Linked DNA regions of Homo sapiens. The protein of the gene in region 5 purifies or fractionates together with the protein of the main gene of each other region. This does not show direct contact. Each region holds a gene or a part of one and is shown on either strand. Other genes may lie near its edges.

What was found.
Region 1: the proteins of SSH1 (region 5) and PSMB2 purify together in Homo sapiens (affinity purification with mass spectrometry, with the first as the bait; one large-scale study listed by BioGRID). This does not show direct contact.
Region 2: the proteins of SSH1 (region 5) and TMOD1 purify together in Homo sapiens (co-immunoprecipitation; one large-scale study listed by IntAct). This does not show direct contact.
Region 3: the proteins of SSH1 (region 5) and FLNC purify together in Homo sapiens (affinity purification with mass spectrometry, with the first as the bait; one large-scale study listed by BioGRID). This does not show direct contact.
Region 4: the proteins of SSH1 (region 5) and ARPC2 purify together in Homo sapiens (co-immunoprecipitation; one study listed by IntAct). This does not show direct contact.
Region 6: the proteins of SSH1 (region 5) and MYO6 purify together in Homo sapiens (co-immunoprecipitation; one large-scale study listed by IntAct). This does not show direct contact.
Region 7: the proteins of SSH1 (region 5) and MYO5A purify together in Homo sapiens (affinity purification with mass spectrometry; one large-scale study listed by BioGRID and IntAct). This does not show direct contact.

Annotation. Positions count from the first base shown.
Region 1 is NC_000001.11:35,631,527-35,635,026, reverse strand, and holds part of PSMB2 (proteasome subunit beta type-2), read left to right. Parts: intron 1-3,489; exon of another isoform or gene 3,490-3,500. UniProt on the Homo sapiens protein: Non-catalytic component of the 20S core proteasome complex involved in the proteolytic degradation of most intracellular proteins. This complex plays numerous essential roles within the cell by associating with different regulatory particles.
Region 2 is NC_000009.12:97,564,166-97,567,665, forward strand, and holds part of TMOD1 (tropomodulin-1), read left to right. Parts: coding exon 1-3; intron 4-1,682; coding exon 1,683-1,790; intron 1,791-3,500. UniProt on the Homo sapiens protein: Blocks the elongation and depolymerization of the actin filaments at the pointed end. The Tmod/TM complex contributes to the formation of the short actin protofilament, which in turn defines the geometry of the membrane skeleton.
Region 3 is NC_000007.14:128,840,406-128,843,905, forward strand, and holds part of FLNC (filamin-C), read left to right. Parts: intron 1-142; coding exon 143-269; intron 270-428; coding exon 429-565; intron 566-764; coding exon 765-958; intron 959-1,048; coding exon 1,049-1,162; intron 1,163-1,825; coding exon 1,826-1,969; intron 1,970-2,169; coding exon 2,170-2,293; intron 2,294-2,388; coding exon 2,389-2,549; intron 2,550-2,823; coding exon 2,824-2,914; intron 2,915-3,002; coding exon 3,003-3,172; intron 3,173-3,390; coding exon 3,391-3,500.
Region 4 is NC_000002.12:218,237,689-218,241,188, forward strand, and holds part of ARPC2 (actin-related protein 2/3 complex subunit 2), read left to right. Parts: intron 1-975; coding exon 976-1,162; intron 1,163-1,702; coding exon 1,703-1,796; intron 1,797-3,500. UniProt on the Homo sapiens protein: Actin-binding component of the Arp2/3 complex, a multiprotein complex that mediates actin polymerization upon stimulation by nucleation-promoting factor (NPF).
Region 5 is NC_000012.12:108,777,691-108,781,137, forward strand, and holds the end of SSH1 (protein phosphatase Slingshot homolog 1), read right to left. Parts: 3' UTR 501-3,447; downstream 1-500. UniProt on the Homo sapiens protein: Protein phosphatase which regulates actin filament dynamics. Dephosphorylates and activates the actin binding/depolymerizing factor cofilin, which subsequently binds to actin filaments and stimulates their disassembly.
Region 6 is NC_000006.12:75,747,979-75,752,038, forward strand, and holds the start of MYO6 (unconventional myosin-VI), read left to right. Parts: upstream 1-1,260; 5' UTR 1,261-1,445; intron 1,446-4,060. UniProt on the Homo sapiens protein: Myosins are actin-based motor molecules with ATPase activity. Unconventional myosins serve in intracellular movements. Myosin 6 is a reverse-direction motor protein that moves towards the minus-end of actin filaments.
Region 7 is NC_000015.10:52,518,881-52,522,380, forward strand, and holds part of MYO5A (unconventional myosin-Va), read right to left. Parts: intron 1-3,500. UniProt on the Homo sapiens protein: Processive actin-based motor that can move in large steps approximating the 36-nm pseudo-repeat of the actin filament. Can hydrolyze ATP in the presence of actin, which is essential for its function as a motor protein. Involved in melanosome transport.

The DNA.
Region 1 (3,500 bases), on a different chromosome or scaffold from region 5:
CGGCCTCCCAAAGTTCTGGGATTACAGGTGTGAGCCACCACGCCCGGCCTTCTACAAAAAAGTTTTTAAAAATTAGCTGAGTGTGGTGGCATGCACCTATAGCCCTAGCTACTCAGGAGGCTGAGGCAGGAAGATCGTTTGAGCCCAGGAGGTCGAGGCTGCAGTGAGTTATGATTGTGCCACTGTACTCTGGAAGGCAGCAAGACTCTGTCTCTAAAAAAAATTTTTTTAAACCAACCAAAAAAAAAAAAACCCAACACCATCTTGGAGGTAGGGATGGTAGTATCAGACTTTTTAAGTGTTAGATATCTCAGAGGATGTGGTTTGAGTTTAAAAGTATCTGAACCTGGCCAGGCACAGTGGCTAGCACCTGTAATCCCAGCACTTTTGAGAGGCTGAGATGGGAGGATCACTTGAGGTCAGGAGTTTGAAACCAGCCTAGGCAACAAAGCAAGACCCTGGCTCTATAAAAAATAAAAATATTTACCTGGGTGCAGTGGTGCACACCCATAGTCCCAGCTACTCAGGAAGCTGAAGTGGGAAGATCACTTGAGCCCAGGAGTTCAAGGTCTCAGTGAGCCATGATAGTGCCACTGCACTCCAGCCTGTGCGACAGAGTGAGACCCTGTCTCAAAACAAAGAAACAAAAAAATCTGAATCTCAGCGTCAAAAAACCTAAGTAAACCTTGGCTTTACTATTTTTTATGTGATAAGTCATTTATCTTCTCTGGGACTTTATTTTCCTTATCTCTGAAATGAATTATAATACTAATGAATAATACATATGAAAATATTTTGTAAACCTAAAGCATTGTGTAACTAACTATAAGTATTTACTGTGCCATAAAAGGGTTCTGCCTTACTCTCTGGTAGGTTTCCTTCTAGAGAGATAATTAAGACTTTTGTGAAGTATTTTGTGAGCTCTCTCTGGGGCTAATGAACTCTTATCCACTGGGAAAACCTCCCTAGCAAACGATACTAGCCACTAGGCCTCTGATCCAGGAATGTTTGTAGTGGTGGTCTGGCAGAGAAAACCTTATTTCCACTTACCTCACAGTTCAATAACAACGTTATACACTGCACTGGTATAATATGGAGCTATGAAGGAAGTTAATTTGAATATACTTGCATGTGTAAAATGACCAAAGATCTATTCACATAGTTTGGGCAGTGGATTTAGCATTTGTATTCAATTCCATAAATACTTTTGAGGGCCTCTTCTATGGTAAGCATTCTGCTTAATACTTAAGAGAATTCAAAGATGAATAAGGCTTAGTCCTGACATTCAGGAACATAAAGTACATGGTACTTAGGTTTATGCAGGTTTAGAATATTTCAAGAATTCTGCTTTTTTTTCCAGTGGTTCCACTTTTTGCCTGCATAACAAATGAAGTATGTCAGTAATGCTTCTGAAGTCCAGTAGGTACTGTATGACTTCACTGGCTGTCCTGAGAGAGGGAGAAGAGTGAACAAGAGTAGCAAGAGTTGTTTGTTACTGGGTTTTAGGGTCTAAAGTCAGTGCACAGACAAAAACTGTGTTTGGTTAAAATTGCCCTTAAAGACCCTTAAATTACCTGCCAAGTACAGTTTTGTGTATGTAACTCTATATAGTAATTCTTATATAAGTTAAAGAACTGAGCTAAAATAAGGGAAAGAAAGAGAAAATCTATATGCAGATAATCAGGCATGACTTTTCTGCCTTTAGGATAATGGTCAGATCTTCAGTGGTGTTTAGGGGGTTAAGTAAAGAATTGAATAGTATTCCCACTTGTCTAGGTTCCTTCTTTTTTTTTTTTTTTCTTTTTTGAGTCAGGGTCTCGTTCTGTTGCTCAGATTGGAGTGCAGTGGTGCAGTCTCAGCCCACTGCAACTTCCAGCTCCTGGGTGCAAGTGATTCTCGTGCCTCAGCCTCCTGAGTAGTTGGGATTATAGGCATGCACCGCCATGCCTGGCTAATTTTTTGTATTTTAAGTAGAGACAGAGTTTCGCTATGGTGGCCAGGCTGGTCTTAAACTCCTGTCCCCAGGTGATCCACCCACCTGGGCCTCCCAAAGTGTTCTGGGATTACAGGTGTGAGCCACTGTGCCTGGCCTCTTTTTTTAAATTATTATTATTATTTTTGTTGTTGTTGTTGAGACAGGGTCTCACTCCTGTCGCCTGGGCTGGAGTGCAGTGGCACAATCATGGCTCATTGCAGCCTCGAATTCCCAGGCTCAGGTGATCCTTCCACCTCAGCCTCCCAACTACCTGGGAAAACAGGTGTGCACCACCACCCCTGGCTAATTTTTATATTTTTAGTAGAGACGGGGTTTCATCATGTTGCCCAGAATGGTCTTAAACTCCTGGGCTCGAGTGATCTGCCTGCCTCCGCTTCCCAAAGTGCTGTGATTACAGGCATGAGCCACTGCACCTGGCCAAGGATTGCTTTCATTATGATTTAATATGCACTAATAGACTTGTGAGGATAAAGTACAATAATACATGTGAAAACACTCAGCATAGACCCTGAAACATAGTTGCTGCTCAATAAATATTTGTTAGGATTTGAATCTGAATCTCTCCTAATTTGACAGTGGTATTTGAAATGTTGTAAGCAATTACTTAACCACACTGCTGTGTGTCTTTCCATACTGACATTTTCTGTGTGGGCCCACTGAGTTATGGATCATTCTTGTGCCTTTTGGCACTGGTCCCATTCTACAGGGGGATTAAGCTCCAAAGTGAATGCGTTATTACATGCACACCTGATGCTATTCCTCTGGGTTGTACCTTTGTTGGTATGACAACTTTTATTTTTGAAGTTTTAACACTTGAGATACTCTATTTTTAAAAATACTGCAGAATGATGGAAATGTTCTTTTTCTGTGGCTTATACTTTTGAAAGTCATATTATACTTCTTAATAAAGTAACATTTAAAATATTTTTTTAATAAACTATGACTCTGAGGTAGTCCTAACTTCTAGCCTCTCTTTTCCCAATATCCTTTTTGTTCCTGTTTTCGTTTTTTTAGAGACAGGGTCTTGCTCTGTCACCCATGCTGTAGTGCAGTGGCACAGTCATAACTCACTTGAACTTCTGGGGTCAATTGATCCTCTCCACTCAGCCTCCTAAGTAGCTGGGATTACAGGCATGTACCACCATGCCTAGAAATTTAAAAAAAAATTTTTTTTAGAGATGGGGGTCTCACTATGTTGCCCAGGCTAGTCTCAAACTCCTGGGCTCAAGCGATCTTCCCACCTTGGCTTCCCAAAGCTCTAGGATTACAGGCATGAGCCACTGTGACTGGCCCCCAATATCCTTTTTAAAATAAACTTTTAAAAGATTGGCATCTAAGACGCCTTTCTTTTTTTTTCACTTCTTGTGTATTCGTGTTCCTTTCCTTCTACGGCAGAAACCACAGTGTGTTGATGAATGAATAGTTTAAGCAAGGCTGCTAGAAGTTTCATTCCACTATAGAACTGGTTCTGTTTGTGGCCAAGAATTGCTGTCAGTACTAACCA
Region 2 (3,500 bases), on a different chromosome or scaffold from region 5:
CGGGTAAGGTCCATTTATTTCACTTTACCTGTGTGTGGCTGGGGGAGGGGGAACCATGTCACCCAAATGCAAACGGTCCAGGGTTGGTTGTGCAGAGTAAACAGGGTCCTGTTTGGATTCTGGGTGTTTCTGCATTGGGAATAGGGACAAAACCTTTGCAAATGGGAGCCTTTAAGAGGGGTGGGCAGTGTAAACAAGTGCATCTGGCAGTCCTGGTTTCTTTCTGAGGATGATATCAGGCCCAGATGTTTAGCACGGGCCAACCCAGCTTTGATCTGGAAACCTGCCACGTTATTCAAAACACTGAGAGATTCTCCGAGATAAAATCATGAGTCAGACACACGCTGCTGCATGGGATCTCAAGGCTGGAAAAGTCCGGTGCCCACTAGGCTCGGGGGTAACACAGGCCCTGGGCAGGCCCCTCCCCTGTGCCATCGCTGCTGCTATATCACGTTCATATTCAGCCTTGTTTTACAGCCACAGAAGGGAGCTGTTGGCCAAAATGTCCAAAGCGATATCCCAAGCTGTCTGCCCTTTTCTCTGTGCACATTTCCTTATGTGATCCCGGGGCAGGGGAGGGACAGGTGGACAGGCAGTCTCACCCTGAACAGGCCGCCGCAGGAAGAATTCAGAGACAAATGCAGCTTTCTACCCACCTGCTGAGCCCAGAGACCAGTGGATTAGTTCTGGGAGGGGGGTGGGGGTAAGACTAGAAGCCAGCCCCCCATGCCCCTGCTCCACTTTCTTTCCTTCTCCACTTTATTTTAAGCAGCTGCCAGCCCCACGGCACCATCAGATTGGAAACCTGCACCCTAGTGTTCACCCCCACCTGGCCTCCCCATGCTCTGCTCCCATGGGAGCTAAAGTGACGCTCTGAGAGATTGGTAAAAACACAGCCATGTTTTCTTTCATGTGCCCAGTAGGAGACATTGGCACAATTCAGAATGCTGCCCACTGGCAGTGAATGCTGCCTCAGGGCCACATGAGGGATGGAATCTCCCTGTGAGGCCCCAGCCTCCTCTGGGCCTCAGTTTCTCCTCTGCACTGTGAGCCTGTTGGACCAGATCAGTGGTTTTCACCTGAGAAGATTAAAAAATATATACCAACGCCCAGGCCTGACCCTAGAGATTCTGATTCTATTGTTCTGGGCCGGCCCAAGCATCACCATTTTGTAAAAGTTCCCCAGGAGTCTCTGATGTGCCGCTGGAGCAGAGACCCCCTGGGGTAGATGTCTCTTAAAGAGTATCATATGCAACCCCCTTACCTGTTTTCCAGAAACAGGGCCAGAGAGGGCAGGAGGCTTCCACAGAGACACCTAGCAAGTCAGGAACATTGCCGATCATTGGGACCAAGGCCAGGTTCCAGCCCCTCTCACACCCCTAGTCCTAGCTCTTTGCACAATACTACACGCCTTAATTTTTGCCTCTTCTCTGGCCCCCAAGTGCACAAAGAAAGAGGTTACAGGTCTTATCTGAAATTTTCAGGGAGGATTTTCTAAATCTGTTTACCAGAAAGTTCTCCCCAGATTTCAGTCGTCCGGGACAAAGCCTAAACCTTTTGCCCATTCAGCTTTTTGGCCAGAGACTTGCCAGGAATCAGAGAGTAGCCAGGCTAATCCACCTGCCTCAGCCTGTCCCAGAGGAGGCTTCTGGTCACTCTCTCTGTTGCCTTTCTTTGTGCAGAATATCCCCATCCCCACCCTCAAGGCATATGCAGAAGCCCTGAAAGAAAACTCATATGTGAAGAAGTTCAGCATCGTGGGGACACGGAGTAATGACCCCGTGGCGTATGTATGTACCTTTCTGTTCTGTTGCATTGTGGCTGGGGGCCTTGAAACAGAAGGGTTGAAATATGTGGCCTCAGGACTGGTTGTATCCCACTAACAAAGAGCTCTATGTGGTACAGTGGAAGGCATTGGACCAGGAGCCATGAGGGGTGTAGAGGGAACAGCCATCACCTGGCACCACCTACACGTCATCCTGGCCAATCCTCACACCCACTTCTGGTCTCAGATGTGCAGTTCTCCCCACTTTGCACTTAAAAAATCTAGGGTTCGGAGAGGTCAGGCAACTTGTTTTGTCCAGTCACACAGCAAGTGAGAGGTGGACCTGCAAGTCCAGTGCAGTCACGTGACCCCTAAATCTTCACTCGGCACATCATATTAGAACAAGAGCCTGCCCTTCCCTGTTCCTCAGTTTTTCCATCTCTAAAATCAATGGTTTTGGTTGGGCGCAGTGGCTCACACCTGCAATTCCAGCACTTTGGGAGGTCAAGACGGGTGGATCACTTGAGGTCAGAAGTTCGAGACCAGCCTGGCCAACATGGTGAAACCCCGTCTCTACTAAAAGTATAAAAATTACCTGGGCTTGGTGGTGCATGCCTGTAATCCCAGCTACTCGGGAGGCTGAAGCAGGAGAAGCACTTGAGCCCAGGAGGCGGAGGTTGTAGTGAGCCGAGATTGCACCACTATACTCCAGCTTGGGCGACAGAGCGAGGCTCCATCACAAAATAAATAAATAAATAAATAAAAATTTAAAAAAATAAAAATGATGGTTTCATCAGCAGGTCCCAATGACCAATTTTATTTTATAAGTCTCAAAAGATATTTCTGATCAAATTAAATTGTACTTACTCTGAAGTAGCCATCAACTCTTCTTTTTAAACATCCAGCACATATGTATTGAGAGTCTCTCTGTGCCCAACGCTGAATTAGGTTCTGGGAATACAATTGTGACCAGTCTCAGCTTCCACTTTCATAAAGATTCTGGTCCATTTGGCCAAGCAGACAACTAAAGGGTAACAGTACAGTGCAATTACTGCAAAGCTAGATTCCTGCAAGAAGGGCAGAAGCTAGTTTATCAGGGCTAGTAATTAACCATTTAGTAGCAATCGATTTTTTTCTGATTCTTAAAATAGGTAAGACAGTGTTCTTTCATATTTTTGAAATAATAGAAATAGCTCACAGTCTCTCATTGCTGTCAGTGGGGAACCTCTGGATTGATGACCTCTGACCTCAGATCTCCATGGTTCCTTGCCCATAGGAACACAGCTGGCAAAGCCACATGCCCTGTATGCTACTATGTCATGGGTCAGAAACCAAGCACATCCATTCTGGCCCTCAGCTCAGGTCCACAAATGTTTTTTGGGCATGGACTCTGCCAGACCAACAGCTGATATCAGCCTATGCACACCAGTATGCCCGTGTCAAACACTGAGATGCTTCTGGGCCAGTTGGTAAATCAGGCTGCCAGAGCTCTGTCAGGGCCCCCACCGCCTGCCCTAGCTTTTCTCCTGGCCCCGGTTCCTCCACTGGGACCCAGCATACAAGGAGTTAACACCTGGCAAGACAGGGCCTCCAGGACCTGCTCAGCCACCAGCATGTCCAGTTGGATCAGCCTAGCAGGTTGCCTACTGGTTGTTATTTTGATTTTTTTTATTAGATTTGATTAAGCCAGGCCAGGCCTTTCCTGGGAGCAGGAAGGTTCTGGTGGAAGACACAG
Region 3 (3,500 bases), on a different chromosome or scaffold from region 5:
CTGCCCTGAGTTGCAGCACTGCTCACTACAGCACTGCCCTCGGGCTGGGTCGGGGTCCCAATGGCTCCTTGAGGGGATTGAGGAGCTGGGACTTCAAGGATATTGATCTGCCTTCTTCCCCACCCTGCCCCCATCTCCTCAGAGGGCACAGAGGAGCCAGTGAAGGTGCGGGAGGCTGGGGATGGTGTGTTCGAGTGCGAGTACTACCCGGTGGTGCCTGGGAAGTATGTGGTGACCATCACGTGGGGCGGCTACGCCATCCCTCGCAGGTGAGTACCTTGCGCCCCCCATGCTGTCCTGTCTAGGCCATCACAGGGAGGGACGAGGGGCACTGGGCTGCGAGGGAGTTTGAGGGGAGATGGAGTTTGGGCTGCGAGGGACTTTGGGGGGCACTTCCTGGCATGGACACCAGCTCCCTCTCTGCCCAGCCCCTTTGAGGTACAGGTGAGCCCAGAGGCAGGAGTGCAAAAGGTCCGGGCCTGGGGTCCTGGTTTGGAGACTGGCCAGGTGGGCAAGTCAGCCGATTTTGTGGTGGAAGCCATTGGCACCGAGGTGGGGACACTGGGTAAGTGGCTGGGGGGCAGGAGGAGGGAGTGCTGCGGGGGAGGGCAGCAGGGGACACTGTGGGTAATGGGTGCAGTGCGCATGCTGGGGAGCGCTGGGGTGAGCAGGGAGATAGGACATGAGGGCAGCTAGAGGGGAGCTGGGGGACGGAAGGGTCTTGCCTGATGCTGGATCCCCGACCCTCCCCCACCTTGCCCCAGGCTTCTCCATCGAGGGGCCCTCACAAGCCAAGATCGAATGTGACGACAAGGGGGATGGCTCCTGCGATGTGCGGTACTGGCCCACGGAGCCTGGGGAGTACGCTGTGCACGTCATCTGTGACGATGAGGACATCCGAGACTCACCCTTCATTGCCCACATCCTGCCCGCCCCACCTGACTGCTTCCCAGATAAGGTGTGGTCCCAGCTCACACACACCTGCCCCGGGGGTGGGGCAAGCTGGTTCTCCTCCCCTCCCCAACTCAGCCTTCTTCCCTCCGCACAGGTGAAGGCCTTTGGGCCTGGCCTGGAGCCTACCGGCTGCATCGTGGACAAGCCCGCTGAGTTCACCATTGATGCTCGTGCAGCTGGCAAGGGAGACCTGAAGCTCTATGCCCAGGTAGGTCATTGTCCAGTCTCTGCTGCCCTTACTACCCATGGCAGGGACCCTGGAAGGCAGGGCCAGGCCAGAGGCAGAGGCCTCCCAGCAGGAAATGACAGCATCACAGAAGATCAGGCAGGACTGATACTCATGGGCCCATCAGTACCATGGAAAATTTTAAATTTTGTGTTTTCTTAACGATGATAACCTAAAAACGTATTTTACCAAAGAGTCATTTTTGTGCTAATTTGTAATTGAAAGATTGTTTCATTGAATAAGACACTGGTTTCCCAAGTCAGTTTCTCAGACTGGTGTCCATTGACCCCTAGAGGTTAATGAACATATTCTTGAGGATCTAAGAGGGTGATTCTTCTTTGAAAGGCTCATGATTCAGTTTTAGGAACATAAATTTAGCCCACACTCTTCCTGTCCAACACATTTCAGAGTTGAGGAAACCTAGGCTGGGAGAGCAAGCCATACAGATGGCCTTGAGTCAGGCTCCCAGGGTGGGCTCTGGCCGCCAGAGCACGTGGCCCTGGGCTCTGGTGGCCTCAGTGGCTGGTGTGGGGGCGGGAGTGCCAGTGTTGGGGGTGGGAAAGGAGGCGCTGGGTTCACCTGCGGCCAGCAGAGGGCGCTCTGCAGAGGCCACAGCTATGAACTTTGCTTGGGTGATGCCCACAGGACGCCGACGGCTGTCCCATCGACATCAAGGTGATCCCCAACGGCGACGGCACCTTCCGCTGCTCCTACGTGCCCACCAAGCCCATTAAGCACACCATCATCATCTCCTGGGGAGGCGTAAACGTGCCCAAGAGCCCCTTCCGGGTGCGTCCTCCCGGCCTGCCCCGTGCCCACCACCAGGGGTCCCTGAGGGAGGGCGGAACCCTCGCTGGAGTCCCTGTTGTCCCTGGGCTCAGGCTGGGACTGAGGCTTGGGCTGGTGCCACTGAGGCTGGGCCGGGTGCGCTGGGCAGGAGGATGAGCCTTGAGGGAGGGCACCACGCTGAGCTGCGACCCCTCCCGCAGGTGAACGTGGGCGAGGGCAGCCACCCCGAGCGGGTAAAGGTGTACGGCCCCGGAGTGGAGAAGACAGGCCTCAAGGCCAATGAGCCCACCTACTTCACGGTGGACTGCAGCGAGGCGGGGCAAGGTGCGCCCAGCCGGAAGGGGTGGGTCTGGGAGGGGGCGGGGGTGAGTCGAGTCGGGGGCTGAGCCCAACTCACAGCAGTGCCCGCTTCTCTGCAGGCGACGTGAGCATCGGCATCAAGTGCGCCCCAGGCGTGGTGGGCCCTGCAGAGGCTGACATTGACTTCGACATCATCAAGAATGACAACGACACCTTCACCGTCAAGTACACGCCACCAGGGGCGGGCCGCTACACCATCATGGTGCTGTTTGCCAACCAGGTACCTAAGCTCCTGGGTACTCACAGCGACATGCACCTGCCAGCTCCAGAAGGCAGCTGGAGATGCTGTCACTGGGAACAGGGAGGGATGATTCCGCAGACATGGTGGAGCCCTACCTGTGTGAGGCAGGGTGCCTCAGAGGAAGCAAAGGGGGCCCTTTTGGAGGCTGCCCCTGTCCATGCTGGGTCCCCTGGGTGTGTCCTGAGCCAGCATCTAGCTGAGAGCAGGGGTGTGTTCCCCTCGAGAGCCCTGACTGAGCCTCCTCCACATCCAGGAGATCCCCGCCAGCCCCTTCCACATCAAGGTGGACCCATCCCACGATGCCAGCAAAGTCAAGGCCGAGGGCCCTGGGCTGAATCGCACAGGTGAGTGTCTGGGCAGGGGCTGGGACTGGCTCGAGGTTGGGGTTAGGTGGCTGCCAGGCCCTCACCACATCTCTGGGTGGGTCCTCAGGTGTGGAAGTCGGGAAGCCCACCCACTTCACGGTGCTGACCAAGGGAGCCGGCAAGGCCAAGCTGGATGTGCAGTTTGCAGGGACAGCCAAGGGCGAGGTTGTGCGGGACTTTGAGATCATAGACAACCATGACTACTCCTACACTGTCAAGTACACCGCTGTCCAGCAGGTGCGCTCTGCCCCTCCCATGCTACCGCCCGGCCGGCCCGCCAGAGCCCTGGGTCTCCCTCCTCCAGTCCCATGGGACCAGTTCTGGATCCTCCACGCCTTTCCTGCCTCCTGCCCTCACTCTCATGGTGGATCTGAGCTTCAGAGCCCATATTCACCACCAGGATGTTGTAGGACCTTGCCTTATATCCAGTTCTGACCTACCATTGTACCCAACAGGGCAACATGGCAGTGACAGTGACTTATGGCGGGGACCCTGTCCCCAAGAGCCCCTTTGTGGTGAATGTGGCACCCCCGCTGGACCTCAGCAAAATCAAAGTTCAGGGCCT
Region 4 (3,500 bases), on a different chromosome or scaffold from region 5:
CCCAAGTAGCTAGGATTACAGGCGCCCGCCACCATGCCTGGCTAATATTTGTGATTTTAGTAGAGACAGGGTTTTGCCATGTTGGCCAGACTGCTCTCAAAACTCCTGACCTCAGGTGATCTGCCCACCTTGGCCTCCCAAAATGCTGGGATTACAGGTGTGAGCCACCACACCCAGCAGTTTTTTTAAGGTCACAAAATGACAAGACTAGGATTTGGACCCAGTTCTGTTCGACTCAAAATAGAGTGCCCTACACTTATGTGTCATGCTGCATTTGGCAAGTCACGTCACTTCTTTGAATCTCCTTTTCCCTCTGCAAAACAGTAACCTTATCTAGCCTGCAGACTTCAAAGGTGGTTATGGAGATCAAATGAAGTAAAATGTTTTAAAAATTGTACAATATATACCAATAAAAGCTATTGGGGAGGTATATGTATGAACAGGTAGTTGGTTTTTCTACCCTGCCACCTCATAAAGAGTTTGCAGTGGCACGTAGAAGGGTTTATCTTATTATCACAAAGCTACCCATTTGCTGGCCATACTGATACTTGGCACATTAAACTATCAGAGAAATATATGTGGCTCCTTTACAACTGTGTCTAGAAGGGTACATTTCCAATCAGAGTTCCCAGGTTCTGACTTTCTCCCATTACATATTTGTAATTAGTCATCTTTGATACTGATTCAAATTTTTGATTAACATTAATTATATATATTTACAAGAATCTTATAAAAATTAAGATTTTATTTCACCTCATTTTGCCCTGTGAGATAGATGGAAATAGACTATATTCTACCCAGGTTAAAAGTACAGATAATGAGACAAAATGTCAATAGAACCTGAAAAAAGATTTTTTTAGTTGCCTCTAGTCTCTGTTTACTTGGTATAGATAGTATGCTGCTTTTTTTTTTTTTTTTTTTTTTAAATGTAACTGCTGGGTTGTTTTTTGTTTCTTGTTTTTTCTTTCCCTCCAGGATACAATGTCTCTTTGCTATATGACCTTGAAAATCTTCCGGCATCCAAGGATTCCATTGTGCATCAAGCTGGCATGTTGAAGCGAAATTGTTTTGCCTCTGTCTTTGAAAAATACTTCCAATTCCAAGAAGAGGGCAAGGAAGGAGAGAACAGGGCAGTTATCCATTATAGGGATGATGAGACCATGTGAGTATAGAATTTGGTCCTGAAGCCTGGATATGGCTGCTACACCACCATGGCACTTACTGAAAGAAATATGGCTTGGTCAAACTTTCAGCTGTATTGCGTGAAAATGTTTTTCTCATAAAATGTCTTAAGCCAGGAAGTAGATGATAGGGCAGAAATCAGCCACTCCTCCTACTCTCCAGATACTGAGAGCTGACAGATGGTGGAAAGAGAATCCAGTGCTTTCCTTTAAGGCACCACTGTTCTGAGTCATGTTTAAGAGTATAGCCTGGATAATCAGCAGGCAGGGTGACCATAGGTCCATGTTATATTTACAAGTCAATAAAATCTACTTCTGATAATTTCCATCTGCTGCCTCTCTTAGGGCATTCATTTTGTGCACTGACTTTGTTGACCATAAATATCATCTCATTTGGCACACCTTTATATTATGATTTAAGAGATTTATGACTTTAGCCTTCTGATGTACTTGTAGATCAAGTTATTGACAAAACCCCATTCTGATTCTGTACTTATCCTCATGGATTTTGTTCCTCTCAGGTATGTTGAGTCTAAAAAGGACAGAGTCACAGTAGTCTTCAGCACAGTGTTTAAGGATGACGACGATGTGGTCATTGGAAAGGTGTTCATGCAGGTATGGAGCAGACATCTTGGGGGAAACCCATGCATGGCGACTTATACCTTTGCACCCAAACATACCATGAGCGTAGGAAAGAGATCTAGCAACTCTACTGATGTTAGAATTTTTTTTTTTTTTTTCGAGACGGAGTTTCTCTCTTGTTGCCCAGGCTGGAGTGCAATGGAGTGATCTCGGCTCACTGCAACCTCCGCCTCCCAGGTTCAAGCAATTCTCCTGCCTCAACCTCCTGAGTAGCTGGGATTGTAGGCATGCACCACCACACCCAGCTAATTTTGTATTTTTAGTAGAGACGGGGTTTCTCCATGTTGGTCAGGCTGGTCTCAAACTGCCGACCTCAGGTGATGCCCATCTCGGCCTCCCAAAGTGCTGGTATTACAGGCATGAGCCACCATGCCCAGCCTTGACGTTAGAATTTGTTGAAGATTTAATAGACAACTCCCACAAAACTCAGTGAATATTTTTTGTTGCTGCTGCTGTTGTTTTGAGGTGGAGTCTTGCTCTGTCGCCAGGCTGGAGTGTAGTGGCACGAACTCAGCTCACTGCAACCTCCGCTTCCTGGGTTCAAGCAATTTTCCTGCCTCAGCCTCCCAAGTAGCTGGGATTACAGGCACGCGCCACCACGCCCAGCTAATTTTTGTACTTTTAGTAGAGATGGGGTTTCACCGTGTTGGCCAGGATGGTCTCAATCTCCTGACCTCATGATCCGCCCGCCTCAGCCTCCCAAAGTGCTGGGATTGCAGGCATGAGCCACCGCGCCCAGCCTGATATTTTTTTTCTCAGTGGTTTAGTTTTGCAGGACAGAACTAAAGGGTAAGTTGAGAATTAAACATACTAACTATGAATGAATGTTATGCATCCTTCCTACTGTGGGGTCTTTGACCTAAAACTTTGTCAGGTTTCCTAACCCTAACCTCTTGTGTTTCCTCAGATTTCTAGTAAGGTGGCTGCTCTTGGTTTGGTCCTAAGGTCTTTTCAGAATGGACTGTATAGCCAATTATTTGGTAGTAGATAACGCATGAACAGGTAGAGTTGTTGAACTGACAGACTGAGCCTGAGTTTGGATGGGTCACCATAGAGTACTTCCCTCACAAGAAGCTCATCTTAAGAAGAGTCATGAGAGGCCAGGCGCGGTGGCTGACGCCTGTAATCCCAGCACTGTGGGAGGCCGAGGTGGGCGGATCACGAGGTCAAGAGGTCAAGACCATCCTGGCCAACATGGTGAAACCCCGTCTCTACTAAAAAAATACAAAAAATTAGCCGGGTGTGGTGGCAGGCACCTGTAATCCCAGCCACTTGGGAGGCTGAGGCAGGAGAATCTCTTGAACCTGGGAGGCAGAGGTTGCAGTGAGCCAAGATTGCACCATTGCACTCCAGCCTGGGCAAAAAGAGCGAAACTCCGACTCAAAAAAAAAGAGAGTCCTGAGAGTTAGCAGGGCATTTTGTAATTGGATTTTTGGTGTAGTTGCATTCAGGTCATTGTGTACCAGTCTGCTGGCCAGTTAGTTGCTGCCTCTAGGATGGACATGAGAGTTCATTGGTCAAGTGACATTCAGGCTGGTTTCTTCTGAGATGGCTCAGCATTCAAAATCTAGTACAATGGTAAAATTTTTTGAAAACGTTACTACCTTCATTCTGTTCCTTGGCAGGGTGGTAAAGATTTTTAAATTCTGAAGCAGAATCTCTTTTGCCAAATAGAGT
Region 5 (3,447 bases):
TGGAATACGAAATTAATATAACTGAGGTTTTCCCTCAAATCCTATGCTTTTAAGCTAATGATTCTACAGTCCTAGAACCTTTTTTTTTGTTTTTTTTTTTTTTTTTAAGAGACAAGTTTTACTTTGTTGACTAGGCTGGAGTACAGTGGTGCCATCAAAGCTCACTGCAGTCTCCAACTCCTGGGCTCAAGCAATCCTCCTGCCTCAGCCTCCCCTTTAGAGTAGCTACATCTATAGGCACATGCCCCCACACCCAGCTAACTTTTAAAGTTTTGTGGAGATGGGGTGTTGCTTTCTTGCCCAGGCTGGTCTTGAACTCCTGGCTTCAAGCAATCCTCCCACCTCAGCCTCTCAAAGTGAGAGGACTGCAGGCATGAGCCACTGTGCCCAGCCTGCAACTAACACTTATGGTTATCAATACTCCCTCCCTTAGTTAACTGTCTTAGGTATCATAATAGCCTTTCTTATATGTATCAAAACTCATACTGAACAACAAGTTCTCAGTTGCAAAAGGAGATTTATTGTTTGCACCTGTCTATAAGTACTTGCCCACAAGTTAAACAAACGCACGCATAAGTCCACAGGGGCTCCTTTTCATGGCATATCTCATTTACTCCCTCACTCTCTCAGCATCTGTTGAGCATCTACTGCCCTCTAAGCATTGCACACATGCATTAGGGACTATTTTCCTTGGGGAGAAGATGGTGGGGTAGAAATTGCATGAATTTGGAGTCAGGCACTCCCAGCCTCTGCCCCTTCCTGGCTGTGTGTCCCTGACCCACGTTACCTAACCTCTCTGAGCATCCACTGCTTCCTCTGTAAAACAGAATCATATCTGCGGTGAGGATTAACTTGGTAATACATGTGAAACCCTTGCAACTAGGAATATATCCTCCAATTCCAACAATAACAACCACCATTTATTTATTAGGTAGTGTGCCAGGCAGAAGGGGATTTGCATGCATTATCAGTGAATTCACCAATGACCCCATGAAGTAGGTAGCATTGTCAGTTTGTTCTGATCCAATTTCAAGAGCAAGAGGGAGGTCTACCACCACCACCACCACCACCACCACAATGTACCATTTGTGGGATAATTTGTCTTTTTAAAATCTTTTATTTTTATTTGTTTTTGAGACACGGTCTTGCTCTGTTGCATAAGCTGGAGTGCAGTGGTTCGATCTCGGCTCACTGCAACCTCTGCCTCCCAGGCTCAGGAGATCCTTCACCTCAGCCACTCAAGTAGCTGGGACCACTGGCACACCACCATGCCTGGCTAATTTTTGTATTATTGGTAGAGATGGGGGTTCACCATGTTACCTGGGCTGGTCTTGAACTCCTGGGCTCAAGCAATCTGCCTGCCTCGGCCTCTCAAGGTGTTGGGATAACAGGCGTCAAGCCACCGTGCCCAAATTTGTCTTTTAGAGTCGGATGCTGGAGCATCCTCTCCTAGGCTGGGAGGTTGCTAATGTAAATGCCACACTGTATTTGCTGAAGTGGTTTACAAAAAAAAGGAATTTCAGGTTGAAAATGGACTCTTAACAAGGTACTTCAGGATGCACAATTTCCATTTAAAGGCAAAATATGGTGAATATGATCTACGGGAAAGAAACACACCTTGTGTCACCCCAATAGCCTTTGGAGCAAGAAGTGGGTCCAATTTCCCAGGGGCTGGGGGCTTCATCTCCAACTCATCTGCTTCCTTGCTGAAACCACAAGGGAGATCAAGATGCATCTTTGTCTGGCTTCTTTCTACTTCTGGGGTGGGAGAGACAGCTCTGGGAAGGGTTTCAGATGATGAGGGAGCAGTTCCTATCTGGCTTCATCAATTTTTAGATGTACCTGTAGGCAAATTACTTCCACTCTGTGGGCCTGTTTTTTCATAAACTGAGAATAATGCCAACAAGGCAGTTAATAGAAGGATCCCAAGGTAGTCCAAAGAGTTCAAGAAAGTTAGAAAAAGGACTCTCCTCTACCTTTTTTTTTCTTTTTTTTGTTTTTTGAGACAGAGTCTCACTCTGTCACCCAGGCTGGAGTGCAGTGGTGCAATCTTGGCTCACAGCAACCTCCACCTCCTGGGTTCAAGCGATTCTCCTGCCTCAGCCTCCCGAGTAGCTGGGATTACAGGCGCCCGCCATCATGCCCGGCTAATTTTTGTATTTTTAGTTGAGACGGCGTTTCACCATGTGAGCCAGGCTGGTCTTGAGCTTCTGACCTCAAGTGATCCACCTGCCTTGGCTTCCCAAAGTGCTGGGATTACAGGCGTGAGCCACCGTGCCCAACCCTCTCACCTCTTTTGAGATATGCATCACAGACCACAATGCCCAGTTTGGAGAATTCCAGGGGATTCTTTATGTAAAGCACATAGAAGGTATGTGATAAACATAACCTGGTTTTAGGAGGCAAGGATGCGTGGGTGGGTGGTGTTTCCTGGGTGGAGCTCTCCTTTAGAAAGGGCTTCTTTACCATAAAGTGAATCCCCCTAAGTTCCAAGCCGTCCTCTGTGCTGCCTTTGGAGCCTCTCCCGAACATCTTGCCAAGAGGGGGTTCCCCAGGCATAAACACAAACAAGCATGCGGATCCTCCCCAGCAAAACCACCTCCACTGTAGATGTGATCTGGGATCGTGCCCAACCGCGAGACAGTTACTCTGAGGAGGAAATCAGGGCAAAAGCAGCCCATTACAGGAATATTGTCCTAGGGCCTTGAACAAATAAGTATCGGATGAGTTTTATGAACACACATTGTTAGGGTAGTGTGGGTGTTGTCTCCAAAAAGCATGTGTGCAATGTAATTAGCAAAGCGTGAGCCTACTCAGTTGCATCATATTCTTATTTTGATGGTTTCTAAACTTGGCCATCAGAATTCCCAGGGAATCTCAGAAACATACAGATTGCTGGGGCCCATCCCACCCCATTCATGGCTGGAACCCAAAGAGAATTTGTTAGCTATCTTCAACCTTGCCAGAGAACAGTGTCTTGAACCATGACCCTCAGTGATTTGTTTTTAAAACATTTTACAGAGAGGGCTGCATTATAGCTTGATAACACTATTAGAAGCATCCTGTGGCTTGGCGCGGTGGCTCATGCCTATAATCCCAGCACTTTGGGAGGCCAAGGCGGGTGGATTACCTGAGGTTGGGAGTTTGAGAACAGCCTGACCAACATGGAGAAACCCCATTTCGATTAAAAATACAAAATTAGCCAGGCGTGGTGGCACATGCCTGTATTCCCAGCTACTCGGGAGGCTGAGGCAGGAAAATCACTTGAACCCAGGAGGCAGAGGTTGCGGTGAGCTGAGATCACACCATTGCACTCCAGTCTGGGCAACAAGAGCTAAACTCCATCTCAAAAGAAAAAAAAAAAAGAAGCATCCCACTAAACTTTTAATATTCAATAAGCAATTCTTAACCAAAATTTGGCACCCCATAGAGATTTACCTAGAAGGG
Region 6 (4,060 bases), on a different chromosome or scaffold from region 5:
AATCCAAAATTGAGTCAGAGCAGTGTGAACTGAGACAGCCATCTTCATCTTCTCCCTCTTTTTTTCAGTTTGTTTTGAAATTTAGTTTTATATACTTAAGACTTACCTTCTGGCAATTTGGAATTAAATTTCTGAGATTGCTGTAAATTATTTCCTTTCTTTGTTTCTCTTCCTCTTTCTTACTTCCCTATTTTACTCTTAATATTTTATTGTTTTAGTTGAATTCTAAAACATCTTATCAGAACTTAGAGTTTTTATTTCTCCACCCACAGAACCATGGAGTCTTTAAGTATCAGAAATTTGTCTCCTCGTCAGAATCTTCTAGATTTCCAGAAGTTTCCAAGTCGCTACATATAAATGTTGCAGAAAAACGTGTAATTCTCATGTGCAAGTAGGCTTTTTTCAGCGGATACATTTAGCATTATAGTCAATTGTTATTTCGTTGCCTTAAAAGAAGCTGTTTTCATTGTAAAGGTGATGTGTTTTTACCATATAATTCAAATTTGCATAGGTACTTCATATTTTAAAAGGTGACTCACAGGTATGTCACTAATAAAAACAGTAACATTTAAACGACTGAGAAGGTAGGGGCTCTAAATAAAGTAAATGCGTCGGCGAGGGTAGGAGCGGGAAGAGGCAAAGGGGTGCGAAATTCCCATCCCAAGCCCCCTCCTCCAAAGACCGAATGGCAACTTAGTTGTGCGGGAAGGTTCCCCCCTATGCAGGGCAGCCCAGTCCAAGCCGGCCCGATCCGGGGCCGAGTGAGCAGTGGTTCTTGCCGCAACCGCCACGCAGCCTCGCTGCCGCCCAAGCGCGGACACCTGGTTCCTGGGTCCCCCGCGCGGAGCCCCGGACTCCTCGCCCCTTCTCCGAACAACTTTCTCCCTGCTTGAACTGATTCTCGCTGTTGGTAGACTGCACAGTCACAGTATCCAGCCGGACAGGACCTGCTTTGCCGGGACTGGAAACAACTACCGCGGCAAAAGAGGCCGTTTCGCCATGGGAAGAACAAGAACTCCCGGCTTGTCCAGGGGCAGCCCCTCTCTGCGCTGCAGGGCGCCTACCCTCGCCCCAGAGGCTCTGCGCCGCGGGCGGGGCGACCCCGGGGGTCGCGCGCCCTCTCCCGGAGCGCGCCCTCCCTCCCGGAGCGCGCGCCCGACGGCCTGCCGCGGCCCCGGCGCCCCCGCCCCTTCGGGCGCTCCGTAGCCGTGACGTGCACGCCGCAGTGCCGGGGACTCGGCGGGGCGCCGGCCGGCGGGCGGAGACCGACTCGGGATCTGTCCGAGCAGGAAGCCAGCCTCAGCCCGGCCGCTGTCGCCGCCCTGTCCTGGTGCCCGTCCGCGTCGTCGCCCTCTTCACTGGCCCTCATCACTTCTCACCGCGCCCTCCAGCTTCACCCGTACAGGTAGCCCCGCCGCCGCGCACCTGCCTTCGCTCCCGCACCGGTGAGTGTCCCAGAGACCCACTGCGGGGCGTCGGCGCCGGGGTCTCGCGTTCCCTGGCCCGGCCTTGCTCCCGGGCCTCCTCGAGCAGCTCCGGGGCCGACGCTTCTGTTCACTGCCCGAGGACGCGGGTGGGAGAAGCAGGTGATGGATGGGTGGGCCCTGGGCAGCAGTGGGGCCGGCGGTGGTTCTCGTTTCCACCGAAAGACAATCAGTCTCCTTTCATGGGTTCTCATCACCAAGGTCCCTTTGTGTTTCTTCCCTGGCTCCCAGGTAGAAGCAGAGCACTCAGGTGCCTAACTCGGACTTGGACACTCCGTGATAGTTTTATTTTCTCTTTTGTAAACACGCTTAAAATTCAGTGCAGGGGGAGCGCAGTTTGCTCTGAGATGTGAAGATCAAATGATACCATTAATAGTCTAATCATGTAGGAGACCAGATCGAGACTTTCTAAAGCCTTATTCTTAGTCTCCAGGTGGTCCAGTACCTTGAGTATGTTAATTTACGGATATGCTACTGAACAAGAACTTTTTTTGTTAATTTCCAAAAACTCCCTAAAACGATTAAAATGCTTAAACTCTGGGATTTTAATTTTAAGTAGGACACAATTTGATGGGGTTATTGCTAGAACATCCGTGTTTAAAAGTATTTCCATACAGTTTAAAAAATTCATTACCTTTTTTTTTTTTTTTTGAGACGGAGCCTTGGTCTGTCGCCCAGGCTGGAGTGCGGTGGTGCGATTTCCTCTCACTGCACCCTCCCCCTCGCGGGTTCAAGCAATTCTCTGCCACAGCCTCCCGAGTAGCTGGGATTACAAGCGCCCACCACCACGCCTGGCTAATTTTTTTGTATTTTTAGTAGAGACGGGGTTTCACCATCTTGGCCAGGCAGGTCTTGAAATCCTGACCTCTTGATCCATCCGCCTCGGTCTCCCAAAGTGCTGGGATTACAGGCGTGAGCCACTGCGCCTGGCCAAATATTCTTTACATCTTACCTGGCATAAAGTGATGTGGTGGAGGGATGCTTAAATCCTGATTTACAAGTATTAGTGAGAAATGAGGAGCACTGCCCTAACTTAATAGACTTAACTGTACGGGCTAAATAAGCCTCATTTTTTTTTTTTTTTTAATGCTCTGGTGGTATAGATGCAGTCTATCTAAATAAAGTCAGAACTTGAGAGTTTTAAAAATTAACTTTTTTTTTTTTGAGACAGAGCCTCGCTCTGTCAGCTCACTGCAACCTCCACCTCCCAGGTTCGAACGATTGACCTCCCTCAGCCGCCCGAGTGGCTGGGACTACAGTAAGGGCGCGCCACTGCCCAGCTAATTTTTGTATTTTTAGCAGAGACGGGGATTCGCCATGTTGGCCAGGCTGGTCTCGAACTCCTGACCTCAGGTGATCCACTCGCCTCGGCCTCCCAAAGTGCTAGGATTACAGGCTTGAGCCCCCGCGCCTGGCCTGAAAATTAACATTCTTAAGATTTAGCTGAAACTTATCTTCACACCATAAAACGTGAATCTTGAACTTGGACTGGTAGTGGTCATGGTACAAAGGTTGGCGGCAAAACAGCATTTCTGTACAAATTAACTGAACTTCCTAGATGTCTTGGGTTGTGGTTTTCAAACTGGAGAATGTTTAGTGAAAAAATTACCTTTGTGCCTTTTTTCCTTAATTGTAGAAACCGCCACAAATGTTACAAAGTGGGCTATAGCCAGAGCTTGAAACCATGCTGCCGTTCAAAATAGCTCACAGACTTTTATATATACAGCTCATTTTGAGTATTTTACGTTACGCAGGAATTGCATCCACTTTGGTAAACAGAAGTCATTTTAGTCTTATGTACATTTGCCCATTATTTTTGTATTTTTTGTGTGACATGCTGTTTATCATTCTCTCATCTTTGTAAGTTACATTTTTGTTTTCAGAAACCATTGTAAATGTAACAGAAGTATGAATGACATTTAAGGAAAGATCATGATTAAAAACTGTATAATATATAAAACTATATATGATATACATATATATTCTTGGTTAGTGCCTAGAAACATGAGCAAGAAAAATGTTATGAACAATTACAATATTTAATGTAAATTAATGCAATTAAATATTGCATTAAAAACAAAAGATCGTAAATCATAACCAGTAGGGATTATCTGAAATGGATTTTTCCCTGTTTATGTTTACGTGGTCAAGTTTTAAAATAACAGTGGCCAGGAAATCTGAGAGAGGCTGAAGGCTCTGTTCTCATCCTGTTGTGACTTTGCCTGGAGTCTGTGGTGTATCATGTAGCCCATTGTTTAGACAACTGGGCTGTATCTGGGTTCCAAAATGTAGCTTTCTTTAGAAAGTTTTAAAGACTTTGACCATGTGAGGCTTGAACAAATGCAAACATCCAAACATTGAAAAAAACCCATTTTAACTTTCTGTTGATAGTTGAGACTCCATTTTTGACATGTAAAATACCAGTTTTAAGAAGAGTTTACTAACCTCTGTGTAGTTTCATTTTTATATATTAAAATATCTAAAAATATTGGGAAGTGTTATAACTTAAATAAATCTCAGAGTTTATTTATTCTTTTTTTTTTTTTTCTCTGAGATGGAGTCTTGCCCTGTCATCC
Region 7 (3,500 bases), on a different chromosome or scaffold from region 5:
GCAAAAACAAAAATGAAGTTCCCTCCTCAATCTAAGTTATGAAAAAAAGATTCACCCTTTAGTAACTTATTTTATTCCATTATAGGTGTGGGATGTATATATACTTCGTTATAACAAATCATAACAGGGCATAAGGGGTGGGTAGATAAAATTAAATAGTAGGGGGATAAAGCAGATGAACAGGTGGAAGGAAGAGAACAGAAGACAGACTACCACTAGACATGAACAAGGAATGACGGACAGGCAAAAAGAAATTGTGCACAATTCTTACTGTTGTGCAATAAGAAATCGTGCAACTTATCTATGTATGAAAATAGGGGAAGAGAATAACGTATGCAAGCAAGGATGTGAAGAAAATAGGGGAAATAAAATGCTGAGGAAATACGGTAGAAAGAAATCAGTAAGAAAGGTGACATAGGGTTCATAGCCCCCAAATTAAGACTGAATAATGGCCGGGCATGGTAGCTCCCGCCTATAATCTCAGCACTTTTGGGATAATTAAGTGGGAGATTGCTTGAAGCCAAAAGTTTGAGACTAGTCTGAGAAACAAAGTGAGACTCTGTCTCTACAAAAATTAAAAAATTAGCCAGGCATGGTGGCATGCGCTTACAGTCCCGGTTACTCAGGAGGCTGAGCTGGGAGGGCTGCTTGAGCCCAGGAGTTCGAGGCTGCAGTGAGCTATGCTTGCGCTACTGCACTCTAGTGTGGGCAACAGAACGAGACCTTGTCTAAAAAAAATAATAATAATAATAATAATAATAATACATGAAAAATCAAAATTGAAGACTGAATAAATTTTCAAAATTTCAATTTCTAACATGCTATTAGTAACATTTGCTTGCACAGACGCTCCATGGCTTTTTTTTTTGAGACAGAGTCTTGCTTTGTCGCCCAGGCTGGAGTGCACCGGCACGATCTCAACTCACTGGAACCTCTGCTTCCCGGGTTCAAGCGATTCTCCTGCCTCGGCCTCCTGAGTAGCTGGGATTACAGGCACACGCCACCACGCCCGGCTAATTTTTGTATTTTTAGTAGAGACAGGGTTTCACCGTGTTAGCCAAGCTGGTCTCAAGCTCCTGACCTCATGATCCGCCCGCCTTGGCCTCCCAAAGTGCTGAGGATTACAGGCATGAGCCACCGCACCTGGCCTGGCTTCTATTTTTCAATCCAAAATGATTCTCTAGGGGAAAGATACCTAATGTCCCCGGTCAAGCAAAATTTCCCATTCTTCTTGCTCAAAGATCAGAAAAGGAGGGGTAGAATTCCATGACTATCATTTTCAGTGACCTATTCATAGCATACATGGACTGAGGGTAGTTGTTTATTTTGACTACCTAGCACTTTTCCTTCCAATGGCGAACAGCTCACAGCCATCCCATGAGGTTGGAGTAGGACTATCAATCACAGTGCCCTGTCCTCCCCCTGGTCTCTGGGGTGAGCACAGACTTGACCACTCATGGTGCTCCTCACCTACTGCCTAGAGGCCCAATGAAAGGAGAAGGCACATGACCAGAATTCCTCTATCAGGCTCTCTTCCTCCAGGCCCAGTGCTGTAAGATCATGTGATCTGCAGGTGCCACTGACCATCTTTTCACCCCTAAAAAAAGCTGCCCTCAGGATGAAACCAATGTCAGACAGCATGTGAGAGTCAGTGAAGAGAGCCCCAATGACCATGTCTGAGCCTTGATTCCAGCCATGCCTAGATTTTTAAGTCACATGAGCAAATAAACTCCTCTTTGGCTTTGAGTTTGGGTTTCTGTTTCTTCCAACTAAAACAGCTGTGGCTGGTAAACTGACTAACACTGTTAAAGAGAGGTTTGGTAAGTCAATGTGCCAAACCTCTCATCCATAAATTACCCAGACCCTCTCTATTTACATCCTGTACCTCAGCTAATACCATAACTTGAAGTGATGAGTTTCAGAAATGTAAAATGTAAATGTTTAAAGTAGAAATTCATTTAAAATGGCATATATTGATTTGTTTCAAGATCTAAAACATATCCCTACTAAACTGAGATTTGATGTTACAAACTTCCACTATTCTGGATGTCAAAGAGTCTACTATAGGGCTGGGCACAGTGGTTCACGCCAGTAATCTCAGCACTTTGGGAGGCCGAGGCAGGCGTATCACATGGTCAGGAGTTCGAGACCCGCCTGGCCAGTACTGTGAAACCCCATCGCTACTAAAAATACAAAAATTAGCCAGGGGTGGTGGCACATGCCTGTAGTCCCAGCTACTCGGGAGGCTGAGGCAGAAGAATCGATTGAACACAGGAGGCAGAGGTTGCAGTGAGCTGAGATCACGCCACTGCACTCCAGCCTGGGTGACAGAGCGAGACTCTGTCTCAAAAAAAAAAAAAAAAAACCTCTACTGTATTCCCAGCTCACCTTCATCTTTCTAAACTAGAGAGTTCGACACCTTTAATCTGTCTAGCCTCTTCACTGCCCTGATCATTTTACTTCTCCTATTCTGAAATTTCTCTAGTTTCATGTACATTTGTCAAGAAGTAGAAACCCCAACCACACATGCAGGATTCCTGGCCAGGACTATATGTTTTTGTATATGTGACAAAAGATGGACAAAACCTATCTTTTTTGTGCATCCAGTCTCCCTCTAGCCCAGCATCTTGCCCACATTTTTGGCCACAGTAGTACATTAGGCCACAGGAGGTAGATACATGGTCCTCATGAACACTTAGTGCATTATGTACAATGCACTTCTCCCTTGATTTCAATCAAGTTTAGAACCATTATTTTGAAATCAAAAAATAATTACATCATCCCTAAGTTCTACAATTGGCAAAAAGCCTTTGCTGTACAAGGAGATATTTAACGCTAATGCCTGCTAGTTAAAAAGAATTCCAAGTGAGGAGGGCTTAGAAGAGAAATGGAGAATGCCTGAGGCATGAAGAGCCAGGGATAAGTTTCTGCAAAGTTTAGGTTGTATCAGCACAAACTCAGACTGATGTTACAACCAAGACAGATGGGGAAGAGGAACCGTTAAAGGGCAAAATTAACCAAAGGGCATTTCAGAAGGCATCAAAGGCAGACATCATTAATAAAGGCAAAGTGGTCAGTGTGTGAAGGAAAGATTAAACAAAAATCATCTAAACTCCTTTTATATCCACTTCCGCCTCCCACTGAAAATGAAACTCCACAGCCATGATCTCCAATGCCAGGCCTTTGTAATAAGTATCTCTATTGGTTGGGCTAAGGTGGAACCATAGCATTCATTTCGGAAAAACCAAAAAGAAAAAACTTCCTTCTGCCCTAATGAGCAAGCATAACTCCAGTAAACTCCCTGAAGATGTTGGGGAAGATAAGAGACAAAGCACAAGGGAACTTTTGGGGTGATGGAAATGTTCTGCATCTTGTTTGTGGCGGTGGTTACATGACAGAATATATGTGTCAAAACTCATCAAACTGTACACTTAAAATGAGGGACTTTTCAAGTATATTATACCTCAATAAAGTTGATGAAAGATTGGGAGTGGGGTGGT